Homo sapiens: one gene and its partners. The protein of the gene in region 3 purifies or fractionates together with the protein of the main gene of each other region. This does not show direct contact. Each region holds a gene or a part of one and is shown on either strand. Other genes may lie near its edges. The genes, in order: RABEPK, ABCB1, TMEM169, TMEM68, LEMD2, RTN4 and GHDC.

What was found.
Region 1: the proteins of TMEM169 (region 3) and RABEPK purify together in Homo sapiens (co-immunoprecipitation; 2 studies listed by BioGRID and IntAct, with this or other methods). This does not show direct contact.
Region 2: the proteins of TMEM169 (region 3) and ABCB1 purify together in Homo sapiens (co-immunoprecipitation; 2 studies listed by BioGRID and IntAct, with this or other methods). This does not show direct contact.
Region 4: the proteins of TMEM169 (region 3) and TMEM68 purify together in Homo sapiens (co-immunoprecipitation; 2 studies listed by BioGRID and IntAct, with this or other methods). This does not show direct contact.
Region 5: the proteins of TMEM169 (region 3) and LEMD2 purify together in Homo sapiens (co-immunoprecipitation; 2 studies listed by BioGRID and IntAct, with this or other methods). This does not show direct contact.
Region 6: the proteins of TMEM169 (region 3) and RTN4 purify together in Homo sapiens (co-immunoprecipitation; 2 studies listed by BioGRID and IntAct, with this or other methods). This does not show direct contact.
Region 7: the proteins of TMEM169 (region 3) and GHDC purify together in Homo sapiens (co-immunoprecipitation; 2 studies listed by BioGRID and IntAct, with this or other methods). This does not show direct contact.

What each region holds. Positions count from the first base shown.
Region 1 is NC_000009.12:125,210,542-125,214,041, forward strand, and holds part of RABEPK (rab9 effector protein with kelch motifs), read left to right. Parts: intron 1-2,828; coding exon 2,829-2,981; intron 2,982-3,500. UniProt on the Homo sapiens protein: Rab9 effector required for endosome to trans-Golgi network (TGN) transport.
Region 2 is NC_000007.14:87,513,885-87,517,384, reverse strand, and holds part of ABCB1 (ATP-dependent translocase ABCB1), read left to right. Parts: intron 1-719; coding exon 720-876; intron 877-1,956; coding exon 1,957-2,154; intron 2,155-3,500. UniProt on the Homo sapiens protein: Translocates drugs and phospholipids across the membrane. Catalyzes the flop of phospholipids from the cytoplasmic to the exoplasmic leaflet of the apical membrane.
Region 3 is NC_000002.12:216,095,419-216,098,918, reverse strand, and holds part of TMEM169 (transmembrane protein 169), read right to left. Parts: intron 3,082-3,500; 5' UTR 2,956-3,081; coding exon 2,685-2,955; intron 1-2,684.
Region 4 is NC_000008.11:55,763,379-55,766,878, forward strand, and holds part of TMEM68 (DGAT1/2-independent enzyme synthesizing storage lipids), read right to left. Parts: intron 603-3,500; 5' UTR 558-602; intron 1-557. UniProt on the Homo sapiens protein: Catalytic subunit of the alternative triglyceride biosynthesis pathway, which mediates formation of triacylglycerol from diacylglycerol and membrane phospholipids.
Region 5 is NC_000006.12:33,779,131-33,782,630, forward strand, and holds part of LEMD2 (LEM domain-containing protein 2), read right to left. Parts: intron 2,024-3,500; coding exon 1,947-2,023; intron 1,050-1,946; coding exon 970-1,049; intron 1-969. UniProt on the Homo sapiens protein: Nuclear lamina-associated inner nuclear membrane protein that is involved in nuclear structure organization, maintenance of nuclear envelope (NE) integrity and NE reformation after mitosis.
Region 6 is NC_000002.12:55,043,952-55,047,451, reverse strand, and holds part of RTN4 (reticulon-4), read left to right. Parts: intron 1-125; exon of another isoform or gene 126-636; intron 637-3,500. UniProt on the Homo sapiens protein: Required to induce the formation and stabilization of endoplasmic reticulum (ER) tubules. They regulate membrane morphogenesis in the ER by promoting tubular ER production.
Region 7 is NC_000017.11:42,188,587-42,191,494, reverse strand, and holds the end of GHDC (GH3 domain-containing protein isoform 1 precursor), read left to right. Parts: intron 1-284; coding exon 285-477; intron 478-591; coding exon 592-663; intron 664-737; coding exon 738-871; intron 872-1,135; coding exon of another isoform or gene 1,136-1,224; coding exon 1,225-1,310; intron 1,311-1,573; coding exon 1,574-1,792; 3' UTR 1,793-2,408; downstream 2,409-2,908.

The DNA of each region.
Region 1 (3,500 bases), on a different chromosome or scaffold from region 3:
ACCCTGTCTCTACTAAAAATACAAAAAAATTAGCTGGGCATGATGGCTTGTGCCCGTAGTCCCAGCTGAGGCAGGAGAATTGCTTGCATCTGGGAGGCAGAGGTTGCAGTGAGCCAAGATTATGCCACTGCACTCCAGTCTGGCAACAGAGCAAGACTCCGTCTCAAAAAAAAAAAAAAAAGAAAATAAAAGAAACGATTATTCTTTGCTCTACACAAGGGCAGAAGTTGAACAATGGTGACCCACTTACGTATTTTGTTAGGTCCATGTAACATTTCCCTATTGTTTTAATCTTAAGTTTTGTTTTTTTTTTTGAAATGGAGTCTCAAACTGTCACCCAGGCTGGAGTGCAGAGGCACGATCTTGGCTCACTGCAACCTCTGCCTCCTGGGTTAAAGTGATTCTCCTGGGCCGGGCATGGTGGCTCACCATGCTGTAATCCCAGCACTTTGGGAGGCCGAGGTGGGCGGATCACGAGGTCAGGAGATTGAGACCATCCTGGCTAACACGGTGAAAACCCATCTCTACTAAAAATAAAAAAAAAAATTAGCCAGGCGTGGTGGCGGGCGCCTGTAGTCCCAGCTACTCGGGAGGCTGAGGCAGGAGAATGGCATGAACCCGGGAGGCAGAGCTTGCAGTGAGCCGAGATCGCGCCACTGCACTCCAGCCTGGGTGATAGGGCGAGACGCCATCTCAAAAAAAAAAGAAAGTGATTCTCCTGCCTCATACTCCCAAGTAGCTGGAACTACAGGCACGTGCCACCATGCCCCGCTAATTTTTGTATTTTTAGTAGAGATGGGTTTTCACCATGTTGGCCAGGAGGGTCTTGAACTCCTAACCTCAAGTGATCCACCCACCTCGGCCTCCCCAAGTGCTGGGATTACATGCGTGAGCCACCACGCCCAGCATAATCTTAAATTGTTTACCAACCAATTATGCAGAAATCTACATATAAAAATTTAAATGGTTTGGCTTCTCTTGATAATGTTGGAAAATCTAATGTCAGTAGGCCTCCCTGTCTACATGGCAACAATTATTTGGAACTGAGCTGCCACCTATCAAGAGGGCTCTTATTCTCCAGTTTGCCACAGTTTTTGTTACTCCCACCTAGGCATTTGAATTTCTACTCCCTGCACTAAAAAAATCAAAGGTAGGCTGGACGAGGTGTAATCCCCCAGCACCTTGGGAGGCCAAGGCGGGTGGGTCACTTGAGGTCAGGAGTTTGAGGCCAGCCCGGCCAATATGGTGAAACCCCCATCTCTACTAAAAATACAAAAATTAGCCAGGCATAGTAGCTCACACTTTTAATCCCAGCTACTTGGGAGGCTGAGGCAGGAGAATTGCTTGAACCTGGGAGGCAGAGGTTGCAGTGAGCCGAGATCGCGCCAGTGCGCTCCAGCCTGGGCAACAGAGCAAGACTCCATCTCAAAAAAAAAAAAAATTCAAAGGTAAATTAAATCACTTCTAGCCCTCAATTACATTAAATTAGTTCAACTTACATCTTTATTGCAACCTATTAATAGCTTTGTGACCCTGGCTACACCATCTCAACCATCTGGACCTCAGTGCTCTATAAAGTAGGGATAATAACTTGCTTCAGATCTAACAAGATAATGCCTGTAAAGGTCTTGTGTAATTGGTTAACCAAGTAAAATAATTGTTAATAATAAAGGTTAGGGTTTTTTGTTTGTTTGTTTGTTTTTTGAGACGGAGTCTTACTGTGTCACCCAGGCTGGAGCGCAATCTCAGCTCACTGCAAGCTCCACCTCCCGGGTTAATGCCATTCTCCTGCCTCAGCCTCCCAAGCAGCTGGGACTACAGGCGCCTGCCATCGCGCCCAGCTAATTTTTTGTATTTTTAGTAGAGACAGGGTTTCACCATGTTAGCCAGGATGGTCTTGATCTCCTGACCTCATGATCCGCCCACCTCGGCCTCCCAAAGTGCTGGGATTACAGGCATGAGCCACAGCGCCTGACCAAGGTTAGGTATTACTATTCTGTGAACTTGTCTTAGCCAGCCATCATTTATTTGCAAGTAACAGAATCTCACTTAAACCAGAGGAAAAAGGGGGAATTTATTTAGTCAGATACAGGCGTGTTTCTTTCTTTCTTTCTTTTTTTTTTTTTTGAGACAGAGTGTTGCTGTGTTCCCAGACTGGAGTACAGTGGCACAATCTTGGCTTGCTGCAACCTCCGCTTGGTTTACCAAGTAAAATAACCCTGGGTTCAAGCGAGTCCCCTACCTCAGCCTCCCGAGTAGCTGGGACTACAGGCACGTGCCACTATGCTTGGCTAATTTTTTGTATTTTAGTAGAGATGAGGTTTCACCATGTTGGCCAGGATGGATTCGATCTCCTGACCTCGTGATCCGCCCACCTGGGCCTCCCAAAGTGCTCGGATTACAGGCGTGAGCCACTGCACCTGGCCAATACAGGCGTGTTTCAAAGAATTCAAGGACAGGAAGTAGAGCCCAGGATCATGAGAAAGTGGAAGCACTTGATCTGGTTGGCTCATTCTGGTTTCATTGGCTACCTTCAACCCAATCAGCTAAAGCTACAAAGTCAAAGCATAGTACAAACATGTCATCTGGGATCTATCCTTGTGGTTGACAAAGTGGGGACAGTTTCCATAGAACGGGGTCTATGGACTAGGCAGACAGCCCCCTAAGTATCTATTATAGAATTTTCTGGAGGTTGACAACATGCCCTTTAAGTGATTCAGTGGTTTTCATTTATGTTTATGGCCCTCTTCTCATGACCCTCCTCAAGTGTGCCAACCAATATAATAATTGGCAGCCCCAATCTAGGAACTGGGTGAAATGTTTTCCAGGAAAACACCAGTGGGACTTAGATACCTGCAAGGGCCTCTTGCCCCGGTATGAACATGCTAGCTTCATTCCCTCCTGCACACCTGACCGTATCTGGGTATTTGGAGGTGCCAACCAATCAGGAAATCGAAATTGTCTACAAGTCCTGAATCCTGGTAAGTAGCCAAAGGTTATTTTATTTACGTACATACAAATAAACTTTCATGCACACACACACACATATATATAAATCCAATTATAATTCCAGTACATTTGGATTATACTAATTACCATTTAACTTTGCTGACATAGAAAATAGGAATTTTAACTTGTAGCATAATCTGAAAACAACAGAATAAAAACAATTGTTGGTAACACATACAATTTTTAACTTGTTAAATGTCAAAGCTGGAAGGGACTTCAGAGAACAGCTATATCAAGTGGGCTACTCAGGTTTATCAAGGGCAAAGTGACTTTCCTAAAGTCACAAGAGGCCGGGCATGGTGGCCCATGCCTGTAATCCCAGTACTTTGGGAGGCTGAAGAAGGCAGATCACTTGAGGTCAGGAGTTTGAGATTGGCCTGGCCAGCATGGTAAAACCCCCATCTCTATTAAAAATAGAAAAATTAGCTGGGTGTAGTGGTGGGCGCCTATAATCCCAGCTACTCAAGAGGCTGAGGCAGGAGAATCGCTTG
Region 2 (3,500 bases), on a different chromosome or scaffold from region 3:
TTCTGAGAGAGAGAGAGAGAAAGAGAGAGAGAACACATGCATGCATGCTCACAAAGCATATAAGGCCCCCTGAGTCATAGGCTTGGAACTGGCAAAAGTGATTTCCACCATATCCTGTTGGCCAAAGCAAGTCACAAGGCCAGCCCAGATTCAAAGGGTGCTGCAAAGGTCACAGTGCAAGAAGATGAGGATACAGAGAGAGGTATACAGAGGGAAAAAAATGGGCCATTTTGCAATCAATCTATCACATAGACATGAACTTATAAGGAAATGTGTTTGTTTTATTTTTAACATCTGTTTTATAACTATTAGAGGCAAAGCTCTCTGGTTATAGAAGTGTCAACTTTTGGCCAGGCATGGTGGCTCACACCTATAATCCCGGCACTTTTGGAGGCTGAAGCAGGAGGTTCACTTCAGCCCGGTAGTTCGAGACCAGCCTGGGCAATATAGGGAGACCCCCATCTCTACAAAAAATAAAACAATTAGCTGGTGTGGTCATGCACAGTTGTAGTCCCAGCTACTACAGAGGCTGAGGTGGGAAGATCGCTTAAGCCCTGGAGATCATATCTTTAGTGAGCTCTGATTGCACTACTGCACTCCAGCCTGGGCAACACAGGAAGACCCCACCTCAAAAAAAAAAAAAAAAAAAAAAAGGAGTGTCAGCTTTCTAGCATTGTGATGGTAATGCTGTGCACATGTTTTGTGTTTGTGCTTTCCAGAGTATTTTCAGCTGTTGTCTTTGGTGCCATGGCCGTGGGGCAAGTCAGTTCATTTGCTCCTGACTATGCCAAAGCCAAAATATCAGCAGCCCACATCATCATGATCATTGAAAAAACCCCTTTGATTGACAGCTACAGCACGGAAGGCCTAATGCCGGTGAGTTTGATGTTTCAACTGTTTGATCTACTCCTGACTCCTGAATGAAAGTATTTTAAGTGGAAACTTAATAAAATTTGTACTTTCAAATATGCTGATGATAAAATAAAACTTCCTAGATCATAGATTCCTTTCAATTACTGCTAATAATATACATCAACATTCAGTACTTTTACGTAGCAAAGGTTATAGGGAAATAGGAATACTGCTCACTTTATAAGCAAAACCTATTAATCAGATTTTTTAAAAACAATTTTTTTTTAGAGACAGAGTCTTACTCTGTCATCCAGGCTGGAGTGCAGCAGTATGATCATAGCTCACTGCAGCCTTGATCTTCTGGGCTCAAGCGATCCTCCTGCCTCAGCCTCCCAAGTAACTGGGACTACAAGCGTGTGCCATCATGCCCAGCTAATTTTTTAATTATTTGTAGAGACAGGGTCTCGTTATGTTGCCCAGGCTGGTTATCAGATTTTATTGTATGTAAGTTACTGTATTCCTGAGGAACAGATTTGAGTTATTGTAGCTGTATTGCATATTCATATTGTCTTAACAATACATGCTATGAAAGCTTTTACTCTTTTAGATCTCATTTATTAAATTCTAGCAGTCTGAGGTCAAGCACAGTGGCTCATGCCTGTAATCCCAGCACTTTGGGAGGCCAAGGTGGGTGGATCACGTGAGGTCAGGAGTTCGAGACCAGCTTGGCCAATATGGTGAAACTCCATCTCAAATAAAAATAAAAAAAAAAAGATTAGCTGGGTGTGGTGGCACACGCCTGTAATCCCAGCTACTTGGGAGGCTGAGGTACGAGAATTGCTTGAACCTGGGGGGTGGAGGTTGCAGTGAGCTGAGATCATGCCACTGCACTCCAGCCTGGGTGACAGAGTGAGACTCTGTCTCAAAAAAATAAAAAATAAATAAATAATAAAATTAAAATAAAATAAATTCTAGCAGTTTGAAGTGAAGCCAATTGTAACACAAATTAATTATCTTCTGACACCTGGTAATCGAGAGAGTTAGCTATACACTTTATTTTCAGTATTGCAGCATTCAAATTTACTGTTATTCTTCTCATTGCAGAACACATTGGAAGGAAATGTCACATTTGGTGAAGTTGTATTCAACTATCCCACCCGACCGGACATCCCAGTGCTTCAGGGACTGAGCCTGGAGGTGAAGAAGGGCCAGACGCTGGCTCTGGTGGGCAGCAGTGGCTGTGGGAAGAGCACAGTGGTCCAGCTCCTGGAGCGGTTCTACGACCCCTTGGCAGGGAAAGTGGTGAGCACACTTTCACATTTAGCTCAGTTCAGGTTTTCATCATCCAAATGTCTGAATGTATTTAATTCTCAACTATAAGCCATGTTTTTTCAAACCTTTAAACAACAGTCCCACTTGGATAAAGTCTGAGAGCCTAAATATGGTCTCCAAGTGGTGTCATCTGTCCCAGCCAACTTCTCCAGGCTCCCCTCAACACTACCCCTCTACCCTCCTTTGCAAGCACCCTTTGTACCACCTGTCTCCCTTGCTGTACTTAGGTTTCAGCTGACTTGAAAAGAACCAACAAAAATGGAAGTAGCCAGAAAGATACAGGACAGGTGCTAGGAGTGAGATGAAAGCCAAGGATGGAGACTGTTTCAAAGATGGTGGTCAGCAATGACAGATGGTATAGAGAGATTGGGTAAGGAGGAGACTGAGAAGACATGATAGAATCTAGCAATGAATGGGCTATTTCTGACATTTTAAAATATTCTTAGTGAAGTAGTGATGGTAGGAAACAGTTAAGGGTGGCTGAAGTATGATTAGGGGAAGAAATGGAGATGTAAGTGAGCATAGATTATCAAGAAGATGGAAAGTAAAAGAAAGGCAAATAAGGACAGCACTTGAGTGGGGAGGCAGAGTCCAGGGAAAATGTTTAGGGGTTGAACTCTTGAGCATTTTTATGACTGGGGATGAGACAAAATCATTGATGGAGAGAGGGCATTGAAACATCATCTGAGGAAAAAAAAGTAGAATCAACAAATTTGGGAAATGTAAAAAGAACATGGAAGTATGCCCTTTTGTCTTAGTTGCTGGGGATGAGGGAAGTGTCTGGCAGGGAGTAGTGAGTTTAAACGACTATGATGGGGGATAGGAAAGAAGACAAACTAGGAAGGAATAGAATTAAGAGCAAGACATTTTCATTATGTAGGCATGTAATTAGTTGTACTGAGAAGTGATATTTAAAATTCTTAACAATGGGAACAGCATGGACACTGACCAATCAGAATGGATGCCTGCTAGTACAAGTCAGATGGATGCCCACCCGCTGTGTATGGACGCTGGTAGCATTTAATGACTCAAATGAAAAGAGAGTTTTCAATCTTTAGTCTAGGACTCTTTTTACTTCCTCACAGCGGTCACTCTTACTCATAAATGTTTGTTATTGTATTCAAAGACAGTTATGCCTTTATTCAGTTTACTCTTAAATCATTACAAGCTTGTTCCCTACTTTTACTCTCTTGCTTTATATTTTCTGTGAACTCTGATTGTGTCCTTCAATTTTGTGGTGAACTTAAAAACAGGACTCTAAATAAAGACGTCGCTGACAGCCAAAGCAATTAGAGGAGGAAATGTTAGCTCTCAGA
Region 3 (3,500 bases):
ACATACCACACTACACATACCACATACATACCACGCACACATACGTACACCATATACTCCCCCATACCATACCACCCACGCCTATCCACACACACACCACACATTACACACACACACCATACGACACACACAAACAGCGCACACACCCCCACATACACCACACCCACACCGCACACCACACATACACACACACACACACACACAACGCACCCACACAGAACCAAATAGCTATCTGCTGGCCACCCTAGAAGTCTGGGTGGGGATGGGAAAATACAGCCTTTAGGCAGGCATGGACCTTGGGCCCTGTGGACTCCTTGCCCCACAACTGAGAGATAAGATGAAGCCACCTAAAGAGCAGGGCCCTGGATAGTGGCAGGGACTCTGTTTACCCAGAGAAAAGGAATGTGCAGTCTCCCAAGCCCTGTCTTTTCACAGTCTTCATCACAGCAAACACCACCACCATCTATCCTCCCTGTCATTCCAGTCAATCACCCAGGAGTCATTATTGATTCCTCTCTTTCCCTCACTCCCTGCCTCTGATCAATCAGCAAGTTCAGATTGCATCCTGAATCCAGCTTCTCTTCTCCAGCTTTCTCCTGCTATCACCCGAACTTCTCCATTAGTGCTACTGAGGCTGCAGGGACACAATAGTCTCCCATCAGCATCCAGTCTTAACCCTTATAATTCATTCTTTATAGAGAAGCCAGAGTGATCTTTTACAAATATAAACAAGATGATGTCTCTTTGCTTAAAAGTCCTCCATTGACTTCCTCTTGCACTTGAAACAAATATCAAACTCTTTACCGAGACCTGCAAGGGCCACCATGATCCAGCCTCTGCCTACCTTCCTGTCCTCCTCTCACCATCCTCCCTCTTATCTCCTACACTCCCTACACTGAAATAACTCCTTTCCATAAATGGGCCAAAGCTGCTCTCACCTCAGAGGCTTTGCCCTTGCTGTTCCACCTCCTCCAAAAACTCTGCCCTAGAACTTTTCATGGTGGCTCCCTCATGTCATTTGGATCAATTCAAATGTCACCTCCTCAGAGAAGCCTTTCACAACCATGCAGTCTCTCCCCCACCACCTTCCACCCTCCACCAGTACTCATCTTCCCATCAGCATGGTTTTGTCATCTTTAGAACTCATACTACTACCTGAAAGTATCTTTTATTTGTTGACTTGTTCACTATCTGTCTTTCCCTGAAGGTCAACTGCAGGAGAGCAGAGAAATTGCTTATCTTGTTCACTGTGAGCATATGTCTTAGAGATCTATCCATCTACACAAATAGATCTGCCTCATCTCTCTACGGCTGCACAATAATAATAATTATTATTATTTTTTCGAGATGTTGTCTTGCTCTGTCACCCAGGCTGGAGTGCAGTGGCAGGATTTCGACTTGCTGCAACCTCTGCATTCTAGAAACACAGATTCTCCACCTCCCAGGTTAAAGCAATTCTTGTGCCTCGGCCTTTGAAGTAGCTGGGACCTCAGGCATGCCCCAGCACACCCTGCTAATTTTTGTATTTTTAGTAGAGACGGGGTTTCACCATGTTGGCCAGTCTCAAACTCCTGTTGTTGGTCTCAAAGTCCTGACCCCACGTGATCTGCCTGCCTTGGCCTCACAAAGTGCTGGGATTATAGGTGTGAGCCACCGTGCCCAGCCTCCACAATAATTCTTAATACAAACACATCATGGTTGCATTAGCTTCAACAAATGTTCTTATATATGCCTCCTTATACAAGGATAACATGGGCATAAGTTTCATGGAGTAGATATTGAGAATTTCTGGGTCATGAGGTATGCATGTTTTGAACTGTGAATTTTACTAAATATTTAATAAACGTTGACAAGTTTCCTCCACAAAGTGGTTGAAGCGGCTTCCACTTTCACTAAGGTGCATGAAGTATATCCATTTGCTCATATTGATGTAATCACATTTTACCCAATTTTTGGCAAGCCTACATGTGAAGGAATACTATATCTCATTGTTGTCATAATTTGCCATATGATTTTCTTCTGGCAAATTTTCTCATAATTTTCTTTATTCATATGAAAGTCAACAATTATTGTTTATTTTACATACATTAAGTAGTTAGCATAGTCTGCTTGTGTTACCAGTTTTTGCGTATAAATCAGCCTCTTCCATTTCATTAGGAATTCTGAAAGGGTGGAGATTTCTGTATCATCTAGAAAAAAATGTAATAGGTGCTCAGTAAATACTGACCATTTGTTGAATGAAGACTGTAATATTGCACCAGGTCAGTGGCTCATGCCTATAATCCCAGCACTTTGGGAGGCTGAGGCAGGTGGATCACTTGAGGCCAGGAGTTCGAGACCAACCTGGACAACATGGTGAAACCCAGTCTCTACTAAAAATACAAAAACTAGCCCGGCATGGTGGCACATGCCTGTAGTCCCAGCTACTCAGGAGGCTGAGGCAGGAAAGTCACTTGAACCCAGAAGGTGGAAGTTGCAGTGAGGCGACATCATGCCACTGCACTCCAGCCTGGGTGACAGAACAAGACTCTGTCTCAAAATAAATAAATAAAAGGTGGTAATATTGCAAGAAGAAATGTATCACCAAGAAGAAATAGGACAGTGAGCATATGCCTGTCTGTTCTGGAAGATGCCCTTTTGGTTTCCTTCCCATGGCTTTAAACAAGTGGGCTAGAGAGACTTACCATCATCCACAGGATAGTCTAGGAAATCATCTCCCTCCTCCTCTTTAGGCTGATCTCCACCTTCTGATTCTCCGGGCTCCTCATCTGTTTTCTCATTGTCTGAGCGGTAGATGATGATGGATTCTGGGCGTGACTCTTTCCTCTTCTTTTTCCTGTGCCCCATTGTGGATTCCCCATCCAGCGCCAGGGCAGCAGCCACAGCCTTCCTGAGAGAGCCCTGGTGGGGGCTTGGAAGCTGGACCTGGCCTTCTACTGCTGTTGGCTCTTCCATTCCAGACCTGACGTCTACCTATGTCTTATAAAGAGTTGGACTTGTTTGAGTAAACTCACAGTTCACACATCACAGAACTTCTTCCTAGATGGGGCTATGCAAAGATGTCCCAAGGATGCATTCCACCTGAAAGATAGGAAAGCAAAGCCATCAACAGGAAGCAAATGGGGTGAGATGGACAGGAATGTGGGAAACGATCCTCAACTTAGCAGAAGCCTTCCTCTCCCTTTACTTCTTGCAATACTTTATTTTGGGAATGCAATCTAAATCTCTTATAATAGACAGTGAATAAACTTTTGCTACAGTAATATTTTTGTCATTTATACAAACATATAATATTTGGCAAAACCCATGTGAAGGAATACTATATCTCATTGTTGTCATAATTTGCATTTTCCTTATTCATATGAAAGTCAACAATTATTGTTTCTTTATTTTATATACATAAGTAGTTAGCATAGTCTGCTTGTGTTACCGATTTTTGTGTATAAATCAGCCTCTAGTTGGAGCATGCAGAGTATAAGGAAGTTGGGTGAGGAAGCCTT
Region 4 (3,500 bases), on a different chromosome or scaffold from region 3:
ACATTGAGATAATTTTTTTTTCTTCTTTGAGATGGAGTCTCACCCTTTTGCTCGGGCTGGAGTACAGTGGCACGATCTCAGTCACTGAAACCTCTGCCTCCCAGGTTCAGGTAATCCTCCTGCCTCAGCATCCCGAGCAGCTGGGACTACAGGCATGTGCCACCATGCCTGGCTAATTTTTGTATTTTTAGTAGAGACAGGGTTTCACTATGTTGGCCAGGCTGGTCCCAAACTCCTGACCTCAAGTGGTCCACCCACCTCAGCCTCCCAAAGTGCTGAGATTACAGGCATCAGCCACCATGCCCAGCCATATTGAGATAACTCTGCACAAAAGAAAACATCAATATCTACCTAATTCAGTAAAAGTAACCCAATTCTTTACGAAATGATTACATACATTAATGGATATTGTTTTTTTATAGAGAAACAGATTTACAAAAGTTCATTATGCAATAAAAATTTATCAGTACTGTTTTTATCTTAAATCTTAAATGACTGAAAATATAGCTGTATAATTATTTTACAAATTCACTCTCTAAAACAGTCATTGGACTTACCAGAAGTTAGATAAATATCTTGTCCCAAACTTCAATGTCTCTATTCTGGAAAGCACAGTAAACAAATGTAAGAAATAAATTACTAAGAAAAAAAAAGATAATCATTAATACCTAGAGTTAGCATTTCTATAAAATAAACAGCAAGAGACATTCATAAATGTTTAAGAAATATGATTATAGGCCCACACTGGTATATTACAATTAAAAAGTACACTCATGCTACCATTGCTTTGGTGAAGACAACTCTACACTGTTTAGTGCCACTATATAGAGCCCCACCTAAGAATTTATTTTAAACAAAGTTTTCAAAAGCTTTGTTTCTTAGGAGAAAAAGTATGAAGATATATAACTGACTATGATTCTTTTTAGTAACTTTGCCAGATAACCTGAAGGTGAAACATAACATTCAATTATACAATTATATTAGCCCTATGATAATATTTTCCTACAAAAGATTTCCTTTCTCCATACTTTGATTGTATTCTTAGAACTATTTTATCATTATTCCATACTATATAATCTTACTGAAAATTATCTCAAGTCCTTTGTAGCTGAGGCAAAAAATGAATAAATGAAAGCAAAGGATGAAAGGAGAGGAGGAGATGTACATATAAGAAAAATGTATTGTTTTTATTCTAAGATTATCTTGCTAACTGGCTTATTAGGAGGGCAGGCACTGACTTGTTCTCCCAGGAATGAAACATTTCATCTAACTTCCTTGTAACCAATAGCATTTACTTGTGAGAAATCTGGTCTGTTATGGTTACAGGAGATGAACATAGCAAACATTGAGCCCACAACTTGGGCTTTATTTACATCATCATCTAATCAATCCATATAAAAAGTCAAATCACCAGCTGGGCGCAGTGGCTCACTCTTGTAATCCCAGCACTTTGGGAGGCCAAGGCAGGTGGATCACCTGAGGTCGGGGGTTTGAGACCAGCCTGACCAACATGGTGAAACTCCATCTCTACTAAAAATATAAAATTAGCTGGGAGTGGTGGTGCACGCCTGTAGTCCCAGCTACTCGGGAGGCTGAGGCAGGAGAAACGCTTGAACCTGGGAGGCGGAGGTTGCAGCGAGCCGAGATTGCACCATTGCACTCCAGCCTGGACAACAAGAGTGAAACTCCGTCTCAAAAAATAAAAATAAAAAAAGTCAAATCACTATAATTTACCCATGTTTGATCATTTAGAATGCAACATAGCAACCATCCATCAGAACTACTAAAAAGGTCTTCCTTATACTTAACTTCCCCGTAACTTTTCCCTACTGGACCTAGTTTTGTACCACAGACCCTCTTCCATTAAACAACCTTGTAAGTTTAAAAACAGCTGCCATGAGCCACAAAATTCCTTCTCCAGTCAGAATCCTTAATTCTTTCAACTACTTCTCAGCCCCTGGTTTCTTAAGCTTTCAGCACTCAAGACCACTCCGAGTTGCTGACTCCAGTTATCTGATACTGACAACACCATGTACGGTAACCCCTGTGCCTCCGTTTGCTAAAACCTATAAAACTAGGATAATAATCCTAACTACCTCATGAGATTACTGTGATTACATGGGCTAATCTGTGTAAAGAGCCTAGAATACCTTACATGTAATCAGTGTTACATGTTTGCTATCGCTATCATTCATAGAATCACAGCAGCTTTTTTGGTAACTCGATCATACTGACTCATTCAGCTAAAAATATGCTACTATTTTCTACATCTCTACAAACTACACTTGAAAAAAACCTTTTTGAGCCCAGCAAAGATTATACATCTCATCTGCTTATTAACTTTCATGAGGTGGGCTAAGACATAGCCTATCCTTTCAGTCTGTTTCGGGAACACAGTGGATGACATGAATGGGCTTAGGAGCCAGACTGAACATACTGGAATACTGGCTTTACAATCTTAAGCAAGTTACACCTCTCTGTGTCTCATTGTTTCTCTGAAAATGAAGATGATAAATCATTCTATAAAGACCTATTTAGCACCTATGTACCCTAATATGTACCACCCATTTCCTCAGCAGCAAATAAAGCAAAGTCTACAACCTCAAGTGACTTACATCCTAGAGGGGGAAGATAGACAGTAAACAAAGAACTAGTAAATACATGCTAGGTCAGATGATGACAGGTGCTAGGGAGAAAGATAAACAGCAGTGTAAGAAGAATATGGAGTTCTATGTCAGGCACGGGAGTAGGGGAAAGGAGGAGGTTGCTATGTTATATAAGGCATTCTGGGAAGACTTCTCTAAAAGATATTTTTCAGCAGAAACCTGAGGGAGGAAGGAAGGAAGCAAACTTCCTAGCTAAATGAACAGCAAGTGCAAAATATGTGCACTTGGTGTGGCCTGAGGAGCAGCAAGGATGCCAGGCTGAGAAAGTGACAGGGAGGGCACTTGGAAATGGACCAGAGAGGCAACACTGTAGAGCTTTCTATGCACGCTTTTTTTTTTTTTTTTTTTTTGAGATGGAGTCTGGCTCTGTTGCCCAGGCTGGAGTGCAGTGGCGTGATCTCCACTCACTGCAATCTCCGCCTCCCGGGTTCACACCATTCTCCTGCCTCAGCCTCCCGAGTAGTTGGGACTAAAGGTGCCCGCCACCACGCCCGGCTAATTTTTTGTATTTTCAGTAGAGACAGGGTTTCACCATGTTAGCCAGGATGGTCTCGATCTCCTGAACTTGTGATCCGCCCGCCTCGGCCTCCCAAAGTGCTGGGATTACAGGCATGAGCCACCGTGCCCGGCCTCTATGCACGCTTTTATCTAAGTGAGATGGAGAAGGCATCAGAGGGCACTGAGCAGAAGGGTGAGGTTGCCTGGCTTGGGTTTTAAGTGGCTGCTGTGTTGAGAATATACTACACAGGCAGCAAATAGGAATATTTGCAATAAGTGATGAAAGTGGCTTACATACATGTGGCAGAGGGAAGGCAGTAGGAAATGGTCAGTTTC
Region 5 (3,500 bases), on a different chromosome or scaffold from region 3:
CAACATGAAAAGGTGAGTGTCATCATTCTTCTGTGTTAGCAGCTTCAGTGAGCGCTGCTGCTGAGGATAAAATCCGTATTCTCCTCCGCCTTTTCTAACACAGGAAAATTGCTCAGCTACTCAGGGCAGCTTTTTTTTTTTTTTAAGCCAACAAATTTTAATCGTGCCATGCATCCAGTTATCCAGCTTGAGGTGGAGCTGCCCGAGGGGCTTCTGCTGGATGCAGTGCTGATGGAATTAGTAATTTGGGTGGATTAGAGAGGAAAAGAACAAAACTCTAGAGACGTTTTAATATCAAGAGCTATAACCTGAACAGAGACCCCCACAAACACCGAGAGTGGGAAGTGGGGAAGTGATGCTGCTCTGCCAGCAGGGGACAGGTCTCTCAAGGCTGCCTGGCTGTTGGCTGACACGCCCCTCCCCCTGGGCTGAGCCGCCAGATACAGCCTTTCAGCCTCATGAAAGGGTTTGCTACCTTTTCTAACAGTGCTCACCAGTGATAAAAATGAGGCAGAAACTGCCTGGTCAGAATAAAATCCAGTATTTCCTTATGCGATTTCCATAGTAAGTAAAACCAACATACAGAAAGAATAATTTCATCTACAAATAAAAACTAGCTCCCGAGGAGGGGAAGTGCAGAAAAATGCCTTCCCCAACAAACCATGTGGTGTTGTTGATGAATGAGAAAGGCACAGACTGAGTTACCTGAGACAGGATTTAGCTGGAACACCAGGCTAACATCCTAACACCTGGATTTTGTGTCTCATCTTGAAGCTGCTCCTTACACTGCATTCCAAATGCTTCTTGCTTTTGTTGCCCCACTTCCATCCTAACCCACATGATTCTGCTGGGAGACCCAGCCTCCAGCTTCAGACCTGAGACAGCTCTGTTGGAGCACGGGTGTTAGCTGACGAGCGAGGACAGTGGTTGCAGGCACCCATGCTGCGTCGCCACCCTGCCCACACTCACCAGATGCCCACGTCCTTGTTACTGCTCAGTATCCAGGTCAGTGCGGCTTCAAACTTGGCGGAGGAGCTGCTGGTCACATTCTGTGGGAGGGCGCGGGAGAAGGTTAGTTCGGCGTCTGGGCGGAGCAGCTGGAACATTATTCTGCTGCTGGATTAAGGAAGCCCTCTCCCGTGTCCTCCACAGCCCCAAAACCCTGTTCTGCTAAAAGCACAGCAAAGTGGCAGGAAGGAAATCGGGGGTTGATGAAAGCCAAGGAAGAGGCTATAACCAGAGGAGGTGATGCGGAAGCACAAGCAGGAAAACAGTGCGGGTCTGAGGCGGCCAAAAGAATATGATTCTCTCGAGGATGGAAGCATCAGGCCAGAGAGCTGGCAGCTCATCTTAGGGTAAAGCGAATAACAGCGTTGTGGCTGGGGGTGGGTGAGCCCAGTGGCCGGTGCAAGTGGTCTGGCCTCAGGCAAGTCCCTGACCCTCTCCAGGCCTCAGTTTCTTCATCTGTGAAATGCAAATGGAACCAGATGACCCCTAAGTTACTGGACAGGCAGGCGACCTGGAATACCAGCTCCATAGTTCTATAATCTACCATCCTGAGGCCACACAGGAAATCAGACGGCCCCTGGGCAGTCTGAATGGTAATCATACGGGGGAGAAGGGACAGCATGTTTCTCCTGAAAGCCGAAGGCAAGACGAGCAAAGTGAACCAAGGGAGAAGCAGGTAACAGGCACACCTACAGTGCAGCAGTCAGGAGTGAGCCGCCCCACTGCACATGGCGGCCTGGCTCTGGGGCAGTCACTACCATGGCTGCCTTAACTGAAGGTAGTCTAGCACAAAAAGCCATAAACCAAACCTTAACTTAAGGTAGCCTAGTACAAAAGCCACAAAGCAAACAAAAAACAAAAACCCCAACAGGGCTTGAAAGACCAATAGGAAAGCACCAGGCCCTCCCAGGAATGTATAAGCACTGAAGCCTACTTACGGCTATATATTCTTGGGCTTCCATAACAGGAATGCATTTGCTTTTTAGATTCTCTGGATTTCCACACTCAAAATTACCTAGGAGAAAAAAAACCACACATGCTCAAACACAAAGGAAAAATCACTCTGAAACAGACTAAAAAATGCAGCAAGAATCAAGCCATCAGCTCTAATAAGGAGCATGTTGCCCAGCGGCTCCTGGCTTCTGTGGGGCATCTTCACTCTGCAGCAAGATCAAAAGCCACTTAGCTTGGATCGATTCCAGATCATTAAAACCTGACCTGCAAAGCAGTGTGGCATTTTGCATTAAATGACTAAAAAGCTGCCCAATAGCAAGGTCTCTTTGCAATTGATCCCTAAAAGAATCAGACAGATAGCTTCGGAAGGTACCGGAATGGCACTATAAATAAACACAGCCTGAGAAAAAAGAAAGGCAGGGAGGCCATGGGCACCACGGGGATTCTGACTCATGACACAGGCAGGCGACCTGGAATGCCAGGTCTATTGTCTTGAGGGGCCCCTTGGAGGAAGAGGATGTCTGTGTGCTGGGCAGTGGGGCCTCAGCACAGCACGCCAAGGGGCAGCTCCCCCGAGTGGCTTTGGAGGCCTGCTCCCATAGGATGGAGCTGGCAGCCTCCCACTTAGTCCTGCCCAACCTCCCCGGTCCAGCCCAGGGGCCATCTCCCCTGGGAAGCCCTCAGCCCCTGGGGGCCTTTTGTTTGATGAAATGGCCCCAGATTTGGTGACCTGCCATAGCCCTTGGTCCTCGCTCCTGTGCTGTGGTTTGCCTGACTCCCCGAGAGCAGGGAGGGTGCAGGGCCACGCACGCATACACTATTTAACACGTGTGCGTGGCCTGACTGCCCTGACCCAGCACAGCCTGGGGGACTTCGGGTGGCCAGTGAGTGTGTTTCTGCATGCTGGGGAAGGGAGCAGCTGAAGGTCATATTTTAAAACTTTGAAACTGAACTGAAGCCTGTCGCCTTCCCCTAACACAGCCAGATCCTCCTACTTCAAAGTTGATCTTGACCCCAGGGGTCCCCTGAGACACAGGTGGCTTCTAGCATCCTCCTTTTCCCACTAGGACTCTTCCTGCCCTTGCCAGGCCTGCCTGGACCACGTAGATGGCCTCTCGATTCGGTTCCTCCTCTCCCTTTCCCAATCCAGTTGTTTTGTCAATAACACTTGAAAATGATTCTGCTTAACTGTGCTACTCAAGCTGCTGCCGCATTCACCTTCCTGGCACCTGGCTCTCAGCATGATACTCCCTTGCTCAAAGCCTCTCTGGCCCTCACTGCCTGCCAGATCAAGCTCTGGTGGCCTGGCATCCAAGGCCATCTATGGTAGGGCCCAACCAACACTTCCAAACTTCATTCTCTCATCTTCCCCTTCCTCCATGAAGGTGCTGCTTCCCACTCGAGATGTAATTTCCTGCCGCTTTGCCTTGTCCTTCCCCACATACATGTAACCAGTCTTACCTGGGCTTCAGGGCCTGGCACAGATGCTACCTCCTGTGACGCTCTCCTGACTGCTCCAGCTAAAAGGCATTGTGCCT
Region 6 (3,500 bases), about 160 Mb from region 3:
TAGAAGATGAGGAGTAACTCAATCTTTTCCTTTTTCTTTATGAAAAAGACATACTTGAGGGAAACTGAGGTAAGAGAAAAATATGAAATATATTTTTAAACAGGAATTTTTTTTTTTTTTTTTTGAGATAGTCTCCCCCTTGTCACCAGGCTGGAGTGCAATGACGCAATCTTGGCTCACTGCAACCTCCGCCTCCCAGGTTCAAGTGATTCTCCTGCCTCAGCCTCCCGAGTAGCTGGGATTACAGGCGCCTGCCACCACGCCTGGCTAATTTTTGTATTTTTAGTAGAGACGGGATTTTACCATGTTGGCCAGGCTGGTGGTCTTGAACTCCTGACCTCCAGTGATCCACCCACCTTGGCCTCCCAAAGTGTTGGGATTACAGGCATGAGCCACTGCGCCTGGCCACAGGAAGTTTAATGATTGACAAAAGCATACTAATCTTGTATTGGTATGGGAACAAAGAAAATAGTTCTGTCTTTGAACATTAGGGATTCAGGGGGTGACAGCACTCTCTTGGAATCTTGTGTGTTGGAATGCTGAGGTTGGAAGGCAATGGGGAAAGAATATTGCCTGTTCTACAGAGTTCCCTAATTCCATATTGATGATACCTATTGGGAAACTTTAGTTTTTTTAGTAAGTGTAAGAACATTGTGATTATGGTTGTGGATAGTTAACCATTTTCAATGTGTCTGGATTTCTTAATGCATTCAAGAGTTTGTTCATTAATTCAACCCATTATTGATTACCTACCAAGAGACAGGATCTATTCTAAGCTTTGAGGGTATAGCAATAAGCAAGACACATGCTCCCCCTTGGGAGAGTACAGATAATAAGCACATAAATAAAGAACCCAGAATAGTGGTGTTATGAGGAAAATAAACAGGATAATGGCATAGAGAATGATGGGGATTTATGGGGGCTTTTTTAGGTTAGGTGACACTAAGACAGGCTTAGAAGGTGAGATTTGAGCTGCAGAGAGAAAACATTTCCAAGCAACTTCAGGGCAAAACCCTGAGGCAGGAATGAGCTCTTTGTGTCTGAGAATCTAGTGTAAGACTAGTGAGAAAAACTAGTGGGAGAGTGAAGAGGTGGCCTTACCCACCCAGATCATTGGGGGTCTCTAACAGGCAATGGTAAAAATGTTTAGCTTTTTAAAAAAATAAAAATATGCTTATTAAATAATTATATTGTGATTTTGGAACTAAAATAAGTTTGGAAGATTCAGGGCTACTGAGAGGACTGATGTGAGACAAAGGTGAGAAATGTGCAGAGCAGGGTTAGAAGCATAGACTAGCCTGCCTGGAAGAGAGGGTTTCTAGATCACTGACACTTGTCTGTTTAACATTGCTGTTTACGTTATTTATGAGTAAGCCCTGATTTTCATCTGTTAATAAGTTGTAATTTTACTGTTTGCTGTTGTGCCCAGAGCATCTCCATCGCAATGCAGTAACTGAAGTGAGACTAAAACCTCTCACTTGAGGGCCATTTTTCATGGGAAAATACTTGGCTTAGTGGTTGGTTAAGTTAGGCTTTGAGGATATGCGCAGAAAACTCTGGCTAGAAATCGATTTGAGAGCAGTGCAAACATAATTAAGGGTGACTTCGAACTGGTCTCTGGACATGTTCTAAACCAAGGTTAATTAAGACCGAAAATATGTAGATCTGGATTCTGAAAGATACTGAATGCCAAATTAAGGAATTTGGATTTTATCATTCCACTTTAATCCATGCTCTGCTATCCAGTTGCCCTTGCTTTTGGTAATTTATATTATGAAACCAAAATTGTTTTTTTTAATTGTTGTTTCTAAAGTTATTGTTTTTCACCCCTTCTCGAATTAGAGCTTTTGGCTTTGGGAAGACAGCCATTGAAGGTTATTTGAACTGAGGCAAGGCACCGTGAAAGCAGTATTAGAAAATTGGTGACAATATTCAAGATAGGTGGGAAGGAAAAGCAGATGAATTATTTAGAAAGCTATTACAGTAGTTCTGAGAAAGATGAGTAGGGCCTGAACTATTTCATTATTTGTTCATTCAGTGAAAATGGAATAGAAGGGAGGAATATAAGAGTATAAGAAGCACGCTTTCTTTAATTGGCTGTGAATCTGTTTTTATAGTTAGTTTACGAAGAGGCTGTATGAAAGACGAATTGATAGGACTTGGAAACCATGAATGTAAAGACAAAGAAAAGAATATTAGTGCTTATTAAATCAGTTTCAGAGACTGCCAAAATTTAATTGCCATGAAAATTTGTATAAAATTGAATATTGCTCATAAATACAGATTATGGGTTGGGGCTTAAAAATTACTAGTTTTTACTATCATGAAGCCATTTATTATATGATCATTTTTATTGGCGTAGTAGCATGTATTAGAAATTTTAAGATTTTGAGTGACATATGGTTTAAATATTAGGTATCAGTTCTTAATATAAAGTCCAAGTTCCCAGGAAGTGGATGCTTCTAAACACAAGAAAGTCATGCCCTGTCCATTCCCCACTTTCATTTTTGTGATTCTGAATAATTTCTGGTTAAGCCATTTCTTATTTTTAAAAGTTGGGAATAAGTAGTATACTCCTCATGGATATGGTGAATTATGTTTCAGATTGGTTCCTGGGCAACTGAGTGTCAAATTTGTGGTCTTTTTTTTTTTTTTTTTTTTTTTTTAGTGATTTGCAAACTCTCTCAAATCCTTTTTAAAATGAAGTGATGGGTATATGTGGAACCACTGATAAATAACTGCATGGAATAGTGTTTAGAAAACATGCTATTTTAGTGCTATATTATTGTAAACTTAAAGGATTTGCCATGTTATAAAAACATTTCTGAAAAGGAGCATGTTACCTATTGTCCATTAATTGGCTTTGTTTTATGTGTAGTTATTTTCTTTTTAAAAATCTAAAAACCAAAAAACAATGGTCTCACTTTTGTCCAGGCTGGTCTCAAACTTGGGGCCTGAAGCAATCCTCCTGCCTGGACCTCCCAAAGTGCTGGGATTACAGGCATGAGCCACCATGCCTGGCAAGTTTTTTTGTTTGTTTGTTTGTTTGTTTGTTTCTTTTGAGACAGAGTCTTACTCTGTCGCTCAGGCTGGAGTGCAGTGGCATGATTATGGCTCACTATACCCTTGACCTCCTGGGCTTAAGCAGTCCTCCCACTTCAGCCCCCCAGGTAGCTGAGACTACAGGTGCACACCACCATGCTGGCTATTTTTAAAATTTTTTAAAAAAACTTTTATATTTATGTATTTATATTTTGGAGACAGGGTCTTGCTCTTTCACCCAGGCTAAAGTATAGTGGTGCAGTCTTGGCTCACTGCAGCCTCATCTTCTGGGCTCAAGTGATCCTGCCACCTCAGCCTCCCAACTAGCTGGGACCACAGGCACGTACCACCACGCCCGGCTAATTTTTGTGTTTTTCGTGCAGATAGGGTTTCGCCATGTTGCCCAGGCTGGGCTCAAATTCCTGAGGTCAAGCAGTCTTCTCGAAGTGCTGGGTTTA
Region 7 (2,908 bases), on a different chromosome or scaffold from region 3:
AGAGCGAGACTCTGTCTCAAAAAAAAAAAGAGTCTTGCACAAATTCATGTGGCACCAGGATTCACTCCCAAGTCTGCCCCCTCCAGGACCACAGCACTCTGCCTCTTTCCAGTGAGGGCCTAAGAGGCAGCCCGCTGAGGCTGGGGGAGCCAGGAAGGATGTGGTGGAAGGGCAGCAGGAGGATCAGGTGCTCAGAGGATCAGGCCTGGGATCCAGGAGGGGCTATTGCCTGGCAGAAAGCGATGGCACCAGCAGACGCTGAGGAGGCTGCTTTGCTTTCACAGGGGTGCTGGGCCTAAACCTACAGCCAGAGCAGCCCCATGGGCTCTACCTTCTGCCCCCTGGGGCCCCCTTTATCGAGCTGCTCCCAGTCAAGGAAGGCACCCAGGAGGAAGCTGCCTCCACCCTCCTTTTGGCCGAGGCCCAGCAGGGCAAGGAGTATGAGCTGGTGCTGACGGACCGCGCCAGCCTCACCAGGTGATCAGCTGCACAGCCCCTGCTACCTGGGGCCCTATGGGACCGTGCTGGGGGCCTGGGGCATGAGCTCAGAAGACCTTGGGCCCGACCTCACTCCCACTTGCACCCCATCAGGTGCCGCCTGGGTGATGTGGTGCGAGTGGTTGGTGCCTACAATCAGTGTCCAGTCGTCAGGTTCATCTGCAGGTAGGTGACCCCGGGGAGCTGAAGGGCCATCCTTGTGTCCTGGGCTCCACTGCCTCTCCCTTCCTCCTCTTCAGGCTGGACCAGACCCTGAGTGTGCGAGGGGAAGATATTGGTGAAGACCTGTTCTCTGAGGCCCTGGGCCGGGCAGTGGGGCAGTGGGCGGGGGCCAAGCTGCTGGACCATGGCTGTGTGGAGAGCAGCATTCTGGGTGAGCCTCCCCACCGGCTCCTGCCTACCATCCTTGAGCTACCCTTCAACTCCTACCTCCCCTGCCAGGGGACTGCTAGGAAAGAGATAAGCCTCCTTTACTACTCCTACAAAAGTCCTTCTCTGCATCTAACTCTCATCCATCCTGCTGCAGTCTCTACCCATTTTCTTTCCTGATCTGTCTCCTATTTAGGATCAAGCTCTAGGTTCCTCTCCATTTACCCCACTCCCCACCAAGAAACTCTTTTTTCCCTATGAATCTCAGAGTGGGGAAGAACAGATAGGGCAGAGGACACTAGACTTGGCAGCTGCCCATTCACCGGAAGTATGTGTGCACATGGGGTCTATTCACAGATTCCTCTGCGGGCTCTGCTCCCCACTACGAGGTGTTTGTGGCGCTGAGGGGGCTGAGGAATCTGTCAGAGGAAAATCGAGACAAGGTAAAGGAGACGAGGACAGGGTCTGACTGTAGACCCCTTCACTCTGCACACTCCCAGGGTGCCATGGAGATCAGGGCTGATGGGAAGGAGAGGGGTGGCGGAGGAGAAGCTCCCTGGGGCTCTGGGAGGGGAGGGCTAAGTCCCACAGACACACACCTGTCCACACAAAACTTCTAAACACATGTAGCCTGGGCACAGCCACACACGCCTCGTGTGCACACTCACAGTCACACACCAGCTCACTCAGGCTGTTCTGTTCCCAGCTGGACCACTGCCTTCAGGAAGCCTCTCCCCGCTACAAGTCCCTGCGGTTCTGGGGCAGCGTGGGCCCTGCCAGAGTCCACCTGGTGGGGCAGGGAGCCTTCCGAGCACTCCGGGCAGCCCTCGCTGCCTGCCCCTCCTCCCCCTTCCCCCCTGCGATGCCCCGGGTCCTTCGGCACAGGCACCTGGCCCAGTGTCTGCAGGAGAGGGTGGTGTCCTGAGTCAAGTCCTGCCCCACCGCCCAGCTCCCCCCAGAGGCCACCTCGCCCCTCCCTCTGGGACCTCTCCGGATGGGGAGTCCTTGGCCAGGGTCTCTGACTCTGTGTCACCTGACATTTGCCCATGAGAGCCGCTGGGCCTTAGAGAGGCCTTGGCCCAGCTGACCGGTTCTGAAGTATGGGCCTCCGGGGTTAGCAGATGCCAGCAGTGCCTGCCCGTGTCCCCATGTCCCGGCATGAAGGACACTGCTAGAGAGTTACCATGCACACCGATGGTTTCCTGTATCACAGCCCAAAGAGGTTCTCTGGTGGCCACAGCTGTGTGCTCAGTCAGTGCACTGGGCAAGCTAGAAGTGTTGGGGGGTTAATGTCCCCAGGAGCAGCAACCCTGAGTCAATAAGGAGCAGGACCTCAGCTTCATTGTCCTTGAGCAGGACAATTCTGAAGTGTATTCTACATAAACTCTCAGAGGATGCCCAGCAGGATGGAGTCCCAGTTGCCCGCAGCAGTAACCCACTCATTCATGTACTTCCTGCGGGGGCTCTCCCTTCCCTCTCTTCCCCACTCCCCCGCCTTGGGCTTCCTGGGATGGCTCCCAAATAAACCTCTTGCACCCAGATTCTTGCCTCAGGGTCTGCTTTGGGGAAACGGGAGTGGACCCCGGCCCAGCCATTCCCCCACTGAGCTCCAGGACTTTCCCCCAACATTCTGCTCTGGGCCTGGCAAGGCTGCATGCGCACACAGGAGCCTTGGAGGACTCGTGGCACATCCTAGGCCAGCACCCACAAACCACTTCTGCGGTGGGGAAGGGAGAGCTATTACTTCACATCATAAGGCATCGCCGCAGGAAGCAACTCCGGAGACCATCTGGGTTCACTGTTCCATACTAATGAGGAAACGCAGCCTCCACAAGGTTGTAGAGGCTAAAATAAAAGAAAGAAAGAAACTGGGCTAGATTTTGGCTTCCTTCCCTCCCACTGCCTGGACTGGAGTTTTAAGGTTTTCCATCTTGGAGGCTGATGGGAGGGGCAGACCTCAGCTCCTCCTCAGTAGAGGCAGCACTGGATCCAGATGCCTCTGAATAGCTTCTCCATTCCATGTCCCACACCCAGGTCCTGG